Homo sapiens: one gene and its partners. The protein of the gene in region 1 purifies or fractionates together with the protein of each later gene. This does not show direct contact. Each region holds a gene or a part of one and is shown in the gene's direction. Other genes may lie near its edges.

The links.
Region 2: the proteins of GMEB1 (region 1) and USP40 purify together in Homo sapiens (affinity purification with western blotting; one study listed by BioGRID). This does not show direct contact.
Region 3: the proteins of GMEB1 (region 1) and CASP9 purify together in Homo sapiens (affinity purification with western blotting; one study listed by BioGRID). This does not show direct contact.

The regions. Positions count from the first base shown.
Region 1 is NC_000001.11:28,666,557-28,672,362, forward strand, and holds the start of GMEB1 (glucocorticoid modulatory element-binding protein 1), read left to right. Parts: upstream 1-2,227; 5' UTR 2,228-2,283; intron 2,284-2,661; exon of another isoform or gene 2,662-4,639; intron 4,640-5,806. UniProt on the Homo sapiens protein: Trans-acting factor that binds to glucocorticoid modulatory elements (GME) present in the TAT (tyrosine aminotransferase) promoter and increases sensitivity to low concentrations of glucocorticoids. Also binds to the transferrin receptor promoter.
Region 2 is NC_000002.12:233,486,779-233,491,134, reverse strand, and holds part of USP40 (ubiquitin carboxyl-terminal hydrolase 40), read left to right. Parts: intron 1-63; coding exon of another isoform or gene 64-103; intron 104-1,236; exon of another isoform or gene 1,237-1,473; intron 1,474-1,651; coding exon 1,652-1,770; intron 1,771-2,830; coding exon 2,831-2,896; intron 2,897-3,118; coding exon of another isoform or gene 3,119-3,371; exon of another isoform or gene 3,372-3,454; intron 3,455-4,356. UniProt on the Homo sapiens protein: May be catalytically inactive.
Region 3 is NC_000001.11:15,514,212-15,518,567, reverse strand, and holds part of CASP9 (caspase-9 isoform alpha precursor), read left to right. Parts: intron 1-172; coding exon 173-458; intron 459-4,356. UniProt on the Homo sapiens protein: Involved in the activation cascade of caspases responsible for apoptosis execution. Binding of caspase-9 to Apaf-1 leads to activation of the protease which then cleaves and activates effector caspases caspase-3 (CASP3) or caspase-7 (CASP7).

The DNA.
Region 1 (5,806 bases):
ATCGAGATCATCCTGGCCAACACGGTGAAACCCCGTCTCTACTAAAAATACAAAAAATTAACCAGGCGTGGTGGCTCGTGCTTGTAGTCCCAGCTACTCGGGAGGCTGAGGCAGGAGAATCGCTTTAACCTGGGAGGCAGCCAAGATCGCACCACTGCACAGACCGAGACTCCGTCTCCAAATCAATCAATCAATAAACAAACAATTATGGTGGCTCACACCTGTAATCCCAGCACTTTGGGAGGCCAAGGCAGGAGGATTGCTTGAGCCCAGGAGTTAGAGACCAGAGTGGGCAACATGGTAAAACCCCATTTCTACTAAAAATGTAAAAATTAGCCAGGCATGGTGGTTCCTGCTTGTGGTCCCAGCTACTCCGGGGGCTGAGGCAGGAGGACTGCTTGAGCACTGGAGGCTGGGGCTGCAGTGAGCCGAGATCCCGCCACTGCACTCAGCCTGGGAGATCAACCCAGACCGGTCCCCCCCACCAAAAAAAAGAAAAAAAGAAAGAAAAGAAAAGAAGGGCCGGGCGCGGTGGCTCACGCCTGTAATTCAACACTTTGGGAGGCTGAGGCGGACGGATCACAAGGTCAGGAGATCGAGACCATCCTAGCTAAGACGGTGAAACCCTGTCTCTACTAAAAAATACAAAAAAATTAGCCAGGCGTAGTGGCGGACGCCTGTAGTCCTAGCTACTGAGGAGACTGAGGCAGGAGAATGGTGTGAACCCAGGAGGCGGAGCTTGCAGTGAGCCGAGATTGCGCCACTGCACTCCGGCCTGGGCGACAGAGCAAGACTCCGTCTCAAAAAAAAAAAAAAAGAGAAACTTACTTAGTAGGGTTGCTGTGAGGATTATACAAGACAGAAGCATCTTCACCAAGCCATAGGCCATAGAAAGGTCTTTTTGTTTGTTTGTTTTTTGAGATAGAGTCTCACTCTGTTGCCCAGGCTGGAGTGCAATGGCCTGATCTCGGCTCACTGCAACCTCCGCCTCCCGGGTTCAAGTGATTCTCCTGGCTCAGCCTTCTGAGTAGCTGGGACTAGAGGCGCGTGCCACGACGCCCGGCTAATTTCTGTATTTTTAGTAGAGACGGGGTTTCACCATGTTGCCCAGGCTGGTCTCGAACTCCTGGTCTCAAGTGATCTGTCCGCCTCGGCTTCCCAAAGTGTGGGATTACAGGCGTAAGCCACCACACCTGGCCATAGAAAGGTCTTAATACGGCCGGGCGCGGTGGCTCACGCCTGTAATCCCAGCTCTTTGGGAGGCCCAGGCGGGTGGATCATGAGGTCAGATATTGAGACCATCCTGGCCAACATGGTGAAATCCTGTCTTTACTAAAATACAAAAAAAAAAAAAAATTGCCGGGCGTGGTGTCGCGCGCCTCTAGTGCCAGCTCTTCGGGAGGCTGAGGCCGGAGAATCACTTGAACCCAGGAGGCTGAAGCTGCAGTGAGCCGAGATCGCGCCACTGCACTCCAGCCTGGCCAAAGAGCAAGACTCTGTCTAAAAAAATAAATAAATAAATAAAAAATAAAGGTCTTAATACTTGTTAATTACTATTACTGACCCCAGGAACTCTCTGAAGCACTTTTCATGCAGGTATCACCTTCTTTAGCACTCACATTATGTCTTATCGGAAACAGGTTTAGAGCTGTCAAGAAATTCCTCCAGAGTCGTTTACACTTCCAGCAGGGGAGTCAAGACTTCAACCCAGAAACTCACAAGCAGGAAAAACTTGGCAAACAGGCACGGGTCAGACAATGCTTAGGGCTTGCTCAAGGACTCGTGACCAGTTACTGATCTATGCAGATCTTCTGATTGCAAACTGATAGCTGGATTGTAACTTGAAGGGTCCGATAAGATGTAAACTTCATAAAACAGGATTTGGGGAGGTAAATGGAGTAGAGTCCTCCAGAGGAGTCGAGAAAGCTAGCTTGGCCCTCAATTGTGGTTGAGGTGATTCTTTCATTTAGGGCCTATTTTCCTCATCTATGAGTGCGGGAAGGAGAGTTACTGGGGTCTCTAGCGACCTTTCCAACACTGATTTTCAAGGGCGAAAGAATTCTGCTTAGGTAAGGCCCAAATCCCTTGGCTAAGGTTAATCCTCGGTGGGACCGGCAATAGGGACGCGTCCCCTTTAAGGCGCCAGCTCTCCGGCGGCGGCGGCCGGAAGTGTTGAAGCCCGGCCTGGCGGCGGCGGTGGCGGTAGCTGCCGTGGCGGCCTCTGCGCATGCTCCGTCGCCTGCCCGCCCTGGCCGCTCGCCGCCCGCCCGCCCGACGGAGACGGTGAGGAGGGGGAGGGGTGGGCGCGCGGGCGCGGGGTGGGGTGGGGGCGGGGGGGCGGGCGCGGGGGCCGCGCGGCGGCCGGCGAGGGCGGGCGGGCGCGCAGGGGGCGGGGGGCTGCTGCCTCCGCGGGCGCCTCCCCACGCCCTGTGCGTGCCGCCGCCGCCGCCGGGGAGCGAGCGGACGTCGCGGCGCCGCGGGGGGGTGGGGGGACGCTGCCGCTGGGTCCGCCCGAGCCGCCGGGCCGCCCCCAGCGCAGCCGGCCGCGCCGCCGGGGCTCGGGCCCCAGACCAGGGCGGCGGGAACCGGCGAGTCCACCACTGGGGGGGCCCCGGCGCCCCCGGACCGAGGGGCCCGGAAGTACTCGGCTCAGGGGCCAGGAGGGGCCGGAGTGACTCCGGACTGAGAGGGCCAGGCGCCCAGGACCCCATCGAGGGGTCCGGGGAGCCTGGGGTATCCCCAAAGGCGGGGTCCGGGGAGCACCGGGCCCTTGGATGAGGAGCTGGTTGGAGGCCTGGGTCCTGCCCAGTGGGAGGGGGACGATAGGTGCTGGAAGCCCGGATGCCCGCCTGGGAGGAGACCCTCTCGGAGCCTTGGCGGGAGAGCAAGAGTACAGAGTGGGTTCTTCTGAGGAGAGCAGAGTCCAGCTTATCCCGAGGGGCGCGGTAGAGGCCTCGGCCACTCAGAACAAGGGAAAAAAGGGCAGGTTTTTTCCAAAGGCAGGGAAGGAAGAGGAGCTCTAAGGGGAAGTGAGCAGGCCCAGGTCTCCCCACAGATGAGCGCGTGGTAGGAAGACTCCTAGAGCCTCCTGAAGTACGAAAGAGCAGCGTCCAAACCTGAGGGGATGGAAGGTGTCTAGGTGCCTCTTGATGTCTAGGTGGAGAACAAAGTAACCCGCTCGGTCAGGGGATGGAGAAACCTATCTTTTTGAGAGAAGCAGAGATCGTTGAGGAAAGATGCTTAAGGTGTTCCCGCTTTCTGAAATGACAGGAATTGGCCAGGTGTTATCTAATTGAGGGGCAGGAGAGATGAAGGCAAAATCTCAACCCGAGGGTCTTTGGAGGATGATCCACAAGACAAGAGGGTGAAGTCTTGACCTAGACAGCAGAGCAGGCGCAGCCCTGGATTCTCTCAAGATGAGAGAAATCTCAAAACCACTTCCTAGTAGACACAGATGGGGCCTTGATTGGTGTCTGTTTAGGCCAATCAAGACGGGTTTTAGGAAAAGAGACTGTCAGACATAATTCTAGTCTTGAGGGATTATCTTCTTCCTCCTTGCCTCTTCTAATAGTTACCAAAGTGCATTTGGGGACCCTTTTTATTTATTTATTTATTTATTTGTTTTTTGAGACGGAGTCTCACTCTATCGCCCAGGCTGGAGTGGTGGCTCACTGCAACTTCCGCCTCCTGGGTTCAAACGATTCTCCTGCCTCAGCCTCCCGAGTAGCTGGGACTACAGGCGCGTGCCACCACACCAGCCAATTTTGTTGTTGTTGTTGTTGTTGTTTGAGACGGAGTTTCACTCCTGTTGCCCAGACTGGAGTGCAATGGCGCGATCTCAGCTCACTGCAACCTCCGCCTCTTGGGTTCAAGCGATTCTCCTGCCTCACCCTCCCGAGTAGCTGGGGCTACAGGCGCCCGCCACCACACCCAGCTAATTTTTGTATTTTTAATAGAGACGGGGTTTCACCATGTTGGCCAGGCTGGTCTCGAACTCCCAACCTCAGGTGATCCCACATCCTCAGCCTCCCAGAGTACTGGGATTACAGGCGTGAATCACTGCGCCTGGCCCAACCAGGCTAATTTTTTTGTGTTTTTAGTAGAGACGGGGTTTCACCATGTTAGCCAGGATGGTTTCGATCTCCTGACCTTGTGATTCGCCCGCGTTGGCCTCCTAAAGTGCTGGTATTACAGGCGTGAGCCACTGCGCCCGGCGGGGGAAACTTATTCAATGGTTGCACCGTCTCCTAATTTGAGAGCCTTATATCAAGGATGTATATTTAATATCTTACTTAAATGATTTTTTTTGGGTTCCTATTTACTTCAGCAAATACATTGTATAGGTAGCTTCTACTCAGCTTCATTGGGTTTATTGTGGGGGCAGTATTTTGGTCTTGCCCTAAGCCAAAGTCCACCGGACTGTAGCGGGATGACTCCAAATAACTCTTATCCCATCGCTCCCTCAAACATCTACATAATAGTCTCCAGTCTGTGACTTAGAATTTCACCTCCTCTGGATACTTCCCTCAGTGTTTCTGCATAATTTACTTGTTGACCTCATTACATCTTGTAGCACTATGGATCACCCACTGAATGCATGAGAAGAAATAAAGGGGATATCAAGGAGTTTTGGCCTCAAGTAATAATAAAGTTTTAACTTGGATTTTTCCCCCCGTTTTAAACAAAACTGTAGTTTAGAGTGGAAATTTCTTTTTTATTTTATTTTTTTGGGGGAACAGAGTTTCCCTCTGTTGCCCAGGTGAGAGTGCATTGCGGGATCTCAGCTCACTGCAAACTCGATCCTCTCAGCTCAGCCTCCTGAGTAGCTGGGACTACAGGTGCGTGGCACTGCGCCCGCCTAATTTTGTTAGTTTTCTGGCGGGCGCTGTGATTTATGCCTGTAATGCCAGCACTGTGGGAGGCCGAGACAGGCGGCCTCCCAAAGTGAGCGGCCTCCTCGGCCTCTCTTTAGCTCGAGTTCCAGACCAGCTTGGGCAACATGGTGAAACCCCGTCTCTACAAAAAATGACAAAAATTAGATGGGCGTGGTGGAGCTAGTTGCCTGTGGTCCCAGCTACTCTGGAGGCTTAAGTGGGAGGATCGCTTGAGCTCCGGAAGTCGAGGTTGCAGTGAGCCGAGAGCGCACCACTGCTCTCCGGCCTGGGTGACAGAGTGAGACTATGTCTCACTAAAAAATAAATAAATAAATATATAAAAAATAAAACGACTACACAGTCTTCAAAAGTTATAATAGAGTGTGGAATAAATAAATATTTTGGGCTGGGCGCGGTAGCTCACGCCTGTAATCCCAGCACTTTGGGAGGTGGAGGCGGGCGGATCACCTGAGGTCAGGAGTTTGAGACCCACCTGGCCAACATGGTGAAACCCTGTCTCTACTAAAAAATACAAAAATTAGCTGGGCGTGGTGGCAGATGCTTGTAATCCCAGCTCCTTGGGAGGCAGGAGAATTGCTTGAACTTGGGAGGCGGAAGTTGCAGTGAGCCGAGACCGTGCCATTGCACTCCAGCCTGGGCAACAAGAGAGAAACTCCGTCTCAAAAAAAAAATTAAATAAATATTTTGGGGTTAGAAAATTTCAGAAAATCTCGTACTCATTTTTACTTTTTTTTTTAACTTTTATTTTTATTTATTTATTTATTTATTTATTTATTTATTTATTTTTGAGACGGAGTCTCACTCTGTCGCCCAGGCTGGAGTGCAATGGCGCGATCTTGGCTCACTGCAAGCTCCGCCTCCCGGGTTCACGCCATTCTCCTCCTCAGCCTCCCGAGTAGCTGGGACTACTC
Region 2 (4,356 bases), on another chromosome or scaffold:
TAATGTGGCTTCTTCCAGTGAGATATTAATATATTCTTCTATCTCCTTTTCCCTCAATTACAGTCTGTTCTGATATGGCATTTGTCATATGCCATGTTCAGTGGTAAGTACCCGCAGGCAATACACGCCCATGGTGCAGACGGCTCCTCGTGGCCTCACTGGTCCCTCCTCTGACAGGCATGCTGTGCTTTTGTTTCAATCTATCCTCAGTGACTTGCGGCTTTTGTTCATTTTTATTTTTTTAGGGAAACATGGTTTCTTGGAACATTTGTAAAGCATTCACTTTATCCCTTTATTTACATTGTTTGTGTACCATTGTGACCCATATGTTAAATGTTGTTATGAAAAGCTGTGTTACCAGTTTTCCAGGAGGTTAGAACTCCAGCTTTTATGTTAGGATGCTAAACTAGATATTCTAGGTATTGTGTTGTTTCTTATGCATTAACGTTCACAGAGAAGGAGGGTTTTATCCAAATGGAAGGGCTGGATTAAGCACAATGCAGTGTTGAAGCAGCATCCGCCTACTGTTGGACTGAAATGAGCATTCCTTTCTTCTCTTAGAGGAGAAAATGTGGGGCCTATATATGACTAGTGGTTGTTGATGTTTGGCTTTTGTGCGCCCTCAGTATATGAAATACCCTTCCTCAAGAAAAAGCATATGTTGGCTGGGTGTGGTGGCTCATGCCTATAATCCCAGCACTTTAGGAGTCTGAGGCAGGCGGATCACTTGAGGTCAGGAGTTTGGGACCAACCTGGCCAACATGGTAAAACCCTGTCTCTGCTAAAAGTACAAAAAAAAAAAAAATTCACCTGGCACGGTGGCAGGCACCTGTAATCCCAGCTACTCGGAGGCTGAGGCAGGAGAATCACTTGAACCCAGGACAGGGAGGTTGCAATGAGCTGAGATTGCGCCACTGCACTTCAGGCTGGGTGACAGAGTGAGACTCCGTCTCAAAAAAAAAAAAAAAAAAAAAGGAGAAAAGAAAAAGCAGACAGCCTTATTCTCATGAGAACAAATGGGAAAATACTTTTTTTTTCTCATATTAAGTTGAAAGATATAAAATTGCTGTTTTTAGGTCAAAAAATGGATGAATATTGGTAATTTTAGAGGCTCCAACCTAAGTATATCAGTAGGGGCTTAAAGTGATCCCTTCAGAATTAGAACAAGCAGTTTGGGCCTACTGATTGCAGCCAAAGATTTTGAAATACTTCAGAATCAAAAGCTGATTCATCGGCAGAGCAGACACTGGTGGAGGATTGCGCGGGCACGGAAGAAGGCTGCTGTTGTGTCCCTTGTTGTACTGTTAGAGCGGGCTCTGCCCTGGTGAATTCTACTCCCATGGAAGTTAATTCCAAAGTTTCATTTTTTAAACATGATGATTAAAAAGAAGCTTTTGACTCAGATTTAGAGAGAGGGAACTCACTTCTTTCTCAAGGTGATTTCAGTGCAGAGGAATATGAAGACCGCTCAGGGTTAGTGTTATTTAAGAGAGAGAGAGATTCCTGTGACTTTTAAAATGATGTTATCATTACTTGAGATACTCTTTCCTTGAGATGCCACTGTGTAGTGCTTCATTTTTTTTTTCTAAAACAGTATGTTTTGAAGAGTGCTTTTTAAAACCGTTGGAGAAATGTCTGTTTCTTTTTCTAGGCCATGACCTTGCCTCCTTTCCTGGAGTTCGGTGTCCCGTCCCCAGCCCACCTCAGAGCCTGGACGGTGGAGAGGAAGCGCCCAGGCAGGCTTTTACGAACTGACCGGCAGCCACTCAGGTAGGTTCCTTGCTGGACGCAACACTGTCCCTCTCTGCTGCTGACGCACTGGCTGGTGTGAGGGATGGAGGAGGAATCAGTCTTCTGAGCTGAGTGACAACAAAGCCCATTCCTGGTCATGCCACGCTTGTGACTTGGGTGACACTTTTCATCATAAACTCCAGCAGGCCTTCAGTTTTCCATGTTAAGTATAAATGTAGTGTTGTATATTTTTTCTGTGCTCCAGTGACTGTGACATTATATAACTTAAAAGCATTTGGAGTGAGATGGAAAGTAGGAGTGGCTGTTTCTCACTCAGAAATGTTGGATTCAGCTGATCCTCCTCCTGAAACTTTGAACTTAAAGAGCAGGTTTGGGTCATTTCCTTTGCAAAAAGCAGCCTTGAGGCTTTTTGTTTCTTTCTTTCTCGTTTCTTTCTTTTCTTTCTTTCCTTTCTTTCCTTTTCTTTCTTTTCTTAATAGACAGGGTCTGGCTCTGTCGCCCAGGCTGGAGTGCAGTGGCGTGATCATGGCTCAACTACAGCCTCAACCTCCTGGGCTCAAGTGATCCTCCCACCTCAGCCTCCTGTGTAGCTGGGACCTCAGGCATGTGCCACGACACCAGGCTAATTTTTTGTTTTGACGAGGTCTCCCTATGTTGCCCAGTCTGGTCGCGAACTCCTAGCCTCAAGCAATCCTTCCACCTTGGCCTCCCAAAGTGCTGGGTTACTGGCGTGAGCCACTGTGCCTGGCCAAGGCTGCTTTTAATCGGTTCTGATTACCACCCCAAAGTGACTGGCATGAGAATCTTAACCCCGGCTGAACAGAGGGAAATTTCTTTGGCAGTTTGGCCATCTTCCCAGAGCCAGACCTACATGTTTAGTAAGAAATGACTCAAGTATCTAAATAATCACCGCAGCAAGGATTCTCATTTTTTCCCCTTTTCCAAAAGTTTGGGTGTTCTTATAAGTACTCAGAAAACAATTCTTTGCTTAAGAAAAAAGCTTAAAATTGGGGGAAAAAAAATTCAAGAAAATTAAATGTTATGTCACTCAATATTATCTTGTTTCACTTATTATCAGGGAATATAAACTAGGACGGAGAATTGAGATCTGCTTAGAGCCCCTTCAGAAAGGCGAAAACTTGGGGTAAGAAATTCTCCTGTGCATCTGAAGTGACACACACGTATCTTAACCTCGTTTGCCTTTTGAAGCTTTAACAACTTCATAGTGTAGCATTTTTTTCACTGCTTCTAAGTAGCCTAGCAACTTGAAACAGAGTGTGTGCTAGAAATATGTTTGTATGTCTGGGCATCTAAAACTTGGGACTTATTCTCCCATAAAAACAGTAAGGGAGAATTAATTTTTCAGTAATCACCAGGTGCATATTGACCCCATGATGGCCCTGAAGTGTCAGCAAGAGGCCCACCCGCAGCTGTTGTCAGTGTGTTCGGACAGTCTGCCATCCAACGGATTCATCATTGCTCCCGTCGCTCTGCCCCCTTATTCTACTTTCTTCATCCTAGTATCACCTGACATATCTGTACTTACTGATTTATTTGTTAGTATCTGTCTCCCACTACTAGAATATAAGTACTTGGTTTATTCATTGCTATATCCTTAATACCTAGAATAGTAATTGTGCCCATGTCATAGTCAATAATTATTTATTAAATAAAGATACACCCAAAATTGTCTACAATCAAACCATCTTGTTCTTTTTTCGCTGTAGGAAAATATTTTACAAGTCCTTTTGTAAATATCATGAACTATTAAGATTTGCTCTACCTATTATGATATGAGTATCCTTCTTGTGGTCTGCTTGTTATATGAGAAAGTTATCTTTCAACCATGTCTAACATGTATTTAATTTTAGTGTTTTTATAAAAACACATTCTTAATACAAGTTGTACAACCAGAAATAGTTTCCTGGAGGGGAATTCCAGGATCAAATGGTGTGGACATTTTAAACCTCTTAAAATAGTTAAATATTTCTTCAGGCAAGTTGTTCCAGAATATGAGTATTTATTTTACCTCACCCACAAACCAGCATTGACTATTTCATCGTCTAGGTATTTCCTAAATTGATAAATGAAAGATGATTATCTTGTTCTCATATTCTCCAGTGCTTTGATGACTAATAAGTTCAGGCATTTTTGCAAACTGTATTTTGTGAGTGCATGATTGAGTTATTTCGTGTATTTTGACTGCTTCTGTAATGAAGTCTAAAGGAAAAGCTCTCTTGGAATTTGTGTGAGCTCTTTATGATTTTGACCCTTTGTCACAATGGTTGTAAGCTGTGTCAGGTTTTGATAGGCACAGTGCCTTTTGCCCTTTTGAAGAGCAGCTGTGTGCCTCCTCAGGCCCCTTCCATGGGCTTTTCTGTCCTTGACCAACTTCCAGGGCACTCCTGCTCTCAAGGAGGCCTCTAGTCCCTCCTGTTTCTCTCCAGCAGCCTCTGTCCCCTCCTTGGCAACTTCAGCATCTGTGCCGATGCCCTTTCTGTCCTCTGGCCGCACTGTGCTGGGCTCCAGGCCTTGGCCTCACTCCCTGGCCAGCAGCCCCCTCCCCCATGGGGACATGGGGCTGTGCAGCCTCTGCTCTTGCAC
Region 3 (4,356 bases), about 13 Mb from region 1:
AATAATGAACAGATCAGCAAAGGCTGGTAAATGGCACACAGTGCACCTGCAGCTCCATTGCTGCCCACGTGCCTGATTGTTTAGACTTACAGTAGCTGGGAAATGGGGAGACAAGGTGAGAGCCATATAAAAGTACGTGGATAATTAGTATCCTGCCTTTCTTTCCAAACAGCGGGCAGGCTCTGGATCTCGGCGGGATCAGGCCAGGCAGCTGATCATAGATCTGGAGACTCGAGGGAGTCAGGCTCTTCCTTTGTTCATCTCCTGCTTAGAGGACACAGGCCAGGACATGCTGGCTTCGTTTCTGCGAACTAACAGGCAAGCAGCAAAGTTGTCGAAGCCAACCCTAGAAAACCTTACCCCAGTGGTGCTCAGACCAGAGATTCGCAAACCAGAGGTTCTCAGACCGGAAACACCCAGACCAGTGGACATTGGTTCTGGAGGATTTGGTGATGTCGGTAAGTAGCAAGAGAGTGATTGGTGGGTGGGCATGACACGTAGTCATTTGGGACTCACTATGAGTACAGCTGGGTGGGCTGAGATTCAGAATTTAATTTTAGCATTGTCTTTCTGAATGTTCATAGGGATGGCAAAATTCTGGGAGGTTTTCAGGAGGTTGAATCTTGGCAGCCCCTCCTCTGAAAAGCATGTGTTGAGGTCTGTTTTGGATGTCCCAGGTTTTTTGTTTTTGTTTTTGTTTTTTTTCCTGCCTTTGAGATAGCAGGCCCCAGGTTTTGATCAATGTTTCCAGAGCCATCTATTGTTTTGGATTTGCCTTTCAGTCTGGGTGGGTAGCCTGGACTACCTCATGTCTGGGGGCAGGAGACAGGCCTCAGTTGTATCTGCCCCATACAAACAGACATCTGCAAAGTATTTACCCTTACCTTCTTCGTTTATAGCAACCTTGCAAGGCAGGTATCATTAGACCCATCCTTGTTGATGGAGAAACTGACTGAAGCTCACGGAAATTAAACACTTTGCCAAAGGTCACACGGCTACATCCAACAAAATGCATAAATCCCAAGAGTAAGCTGGGTGATTTTTACCTATGCATACCCACAGGTAACTAACACCCATATCATCAAGATGAAAACATTCCGGGGTCCTGTAAGACCGTTGACTCTCTTTCCATTTCTTCCCACTTTCCCTTTCCCAAGGTAATCACCGTTCTCATCTCTATCGCCAGAGATCCCTTTTGCTTGTCCTTAAACTTCAATATAAATCCTATATAGTCTTATATGCTCTTGAGCCTGGCTTCTTTCATTCATCATTGTATCTTTGAAATTCATTCATATTGTTGTACATATCGGTAGTTCATTCTTTTTAATTTCTACATGGCATTCTGAATAATCCACAGTTTATTTAACCATTTTCCTACTGATGGACATGTGGGTTGTTTTCAGTTGGGGCTTTGTTCCCATGGCAGCGTGTGGAGCTCTAGCACTTCCTGTTTCATGGGTGTCTGGTGGACCATTGCATGGTATCAAAGTTAATAATCATAATAGTAATGGTGAACATTATTGAGTAATTGCTATTTGCCAGGCACCGTTCGGAGTGCTTACATAAATGATCTAATTTAATCTCTCCATCTCTCTTGTAAGGCAGGTGCTTTGCTGTTAGAAAAAGTGAGCCACAGATTGGGAGATGACTTGTGCCAAATCACACAGCTAGTGAGGAGTGGAGACAGGGCTGCAGCCCGGGCTTACCTGTTCTGTCTGCTCTGCAGGGTAGCCCCATGTGTGCTTTGTGGGACACACCTCATTGATCCGACTCATGCTGGTGGACATTGTGTTGTTTCTGCAGTTAGCCTTGCATGTGCGTCTAGTTCTGACTGCAGGATATTTCTAGAAATGGAATTGTGTGTTAAAGGGTACTTGTTCCTGTCCGATAGATGCTACCAACTTATACTTCAAAAATATGTCATTTTAGCCAGGTGTGGTGGTGTGAGCCTGTAGGACAAGCTACTTGAGAGGCTGAGGCAGGAGGACTACATGAGCCTAGGAATTCACAGCCAGCCTGGGTAACTTAGTGAGATCCTATCTCTAAGAAAAAAGAAATTGAAAAATTGTGTCTTTTTTTTTTTTTTAATTGAGGCAAGGTCTTCTGTGGCCCAGGCTGGAGTGCAGTGGCATGATCACGGCTCACTGCATCCTTGAACTCCCAGGCTCAAGCGATCCTCCCACTCAGCCTCCCAGGTAGCTGTGTGCGCCACCAGGCCTGGCTAATTTTTTTGTATTTTTTGTAGAGACAGGGTCTCACCATGTGGCCCAGGCTGGTCTTGATCTCCTGGGCTCAAGCAATCCTCCCATCTCGGCCTCCTGGATAGCTGTGCATGTTATCCCTGGCCATTTTTTTTTTTTTTTTTTAAGAGGGAGTCTCGCTCTGTCACCCAGGCTGGAGTGCAGTGGCGCAATCTCAGCTCACTGCAACCTCCACCTCCTGGGTTCAAGCAATTATCCTGCCTCAGCCTCCTGAGTAGCTGGGACTACAGGCAGCCGCCACCATGCCTGGCTAATTTTTGTATTTTTAGTAGAGATGGGGTTTCACCATGTTGCCTAGGCTGATCTTGAACTCCTGGCCTCAAGTGATCCACCTGCCTCAGCCTCCCAAAGTGCTGGGATTAAAGGTGTGAGCCACCACTCCCAGCCCATGCCTGGCCAATTTTAAAATTTTTTGTAGAGATAGGGTCTTACCGTGTTGCCCAGGCTGCCCTCAAACTCCTGTGCTCCAGTAGTCTGCCCACCTCGGCCTCCCAAAGTGCTGGAATTACAGGTGTGAGCCACTGCACTCGGCCCAAATTGTGTCATTTTATAATCTCACCAACTGCGAGTGAAGGTGACCACTTTCCCACATTCTTGCCAACAGTGAATATTGACATTTTTTCCTGTGTGATGGGTAAAAAGTGCTGTTTTCTTTCAACAAAAATTCACCAAAACTCATTCATATTGTTGTGCATATCAGTAGTTCATTCTTTTTAATTTCTAGATGGCAGCAGTTCCTGTTCTGAATAATCCACAATTTATTTAACCATTTTCCTATTGATGGACATGTGGGTTGTTTTCAGTTGGGGCTTTGTTCCCATGGCAGCGTGTGGAGCTCTAGCACTTCCTGTTTCATGGGTGCCTGGTGGACCATTGCATGGTATCAGAGTTAATATTCATAATAGTAATGGTGAACATTATTGAGTACTTGCTGCATAATGGTGATTTTTGGGCAATCCACTAAAGCAGAGAAACAGACAAACATGATAAGGGTAGGAAGCTGCATTTGCTTGAAGTGTAAGGAAGAAGACTGGTTCTGGAATTGGCCATGTGCATTACCATCCTGTAAAGGAGGCAGGCAGAATACAAAGCTCATCTGTTGTTATTTGGTTCTGGGAAATGTCAACGTGAGTCATTTAGGACCAACAGTCAGAATTTGAAACTTCCTGTTTTTTTGGAAGGTGTTTTATTTCCTGTTTCTTGTGAATATTTATTCCTAGTAGGAGCTTAATTCTGAAGGGTAAATAACAACAGCAATAGTAAGATCACTTAATTTTTTTTACTTTATTATTATTATTTTTTGAGATAGGGTCTTACTCTGTCACCCAGGGTGGAGTGCGGTGGTGTGTTTTCGGCTCACTGCAACCTCTGCCTCCCAGGTTCAAACAATTCTCTCACCTCAGCCTCCCAAGTAGCTGGGACTACAGGTGCACCACCATGCCTGGCTAGTTTTTGTATTTTTTGATAGAGACAAGGTTTCCCCATGTTGGCCAGGCTGGTCTTGAACTCCTGACCTCAAGTGATAAACCCGCCTCAGCCTCCCAAAGTGCTGGGATTATAGGTATGAGCCAGCACGGCTGGCCCAAGATCACTTTAAATAATGTGAATATCACTTTGTAGTATACACAGTGTTTTTTCAGGTCATCAAAACCACCCTGTGCCGTGGTAGACATGGCAAGCCCGTCTGTCATTATATGCTACTTACAGGGGAGGAAACTGGGTTCTGAGAGCAACAGTCACAAAGTGAGTTCCAGTACAGAGCTAGGACTTGGGCCTAGGTCTTCTGGCTTAATAGAGCGACTGTCCCATTTTCCATGAGCTGCTGAGAGATGTCCTTTTTAGATGCTGGGCCTTAGACTCCAGAGTACTGCATGGGAATGTTTCCCAAGGTAGGTTTCATGGTGACCCACAAAGGAAGAGCTGTGTATTCATATGTATGGGAAGGTCTGGCTGAGCAAGAATAGGGCCAGCAGCAGAGCCTTTAATAAGTGAATACAGGAAAGGATGCTGTAGGTCAGTGTTTCACACTGGGGACGATTTTTCCCCGACCTCCAAGGGACATTTGACAATGTCTAGAGACAAATCTGGTTGTTAT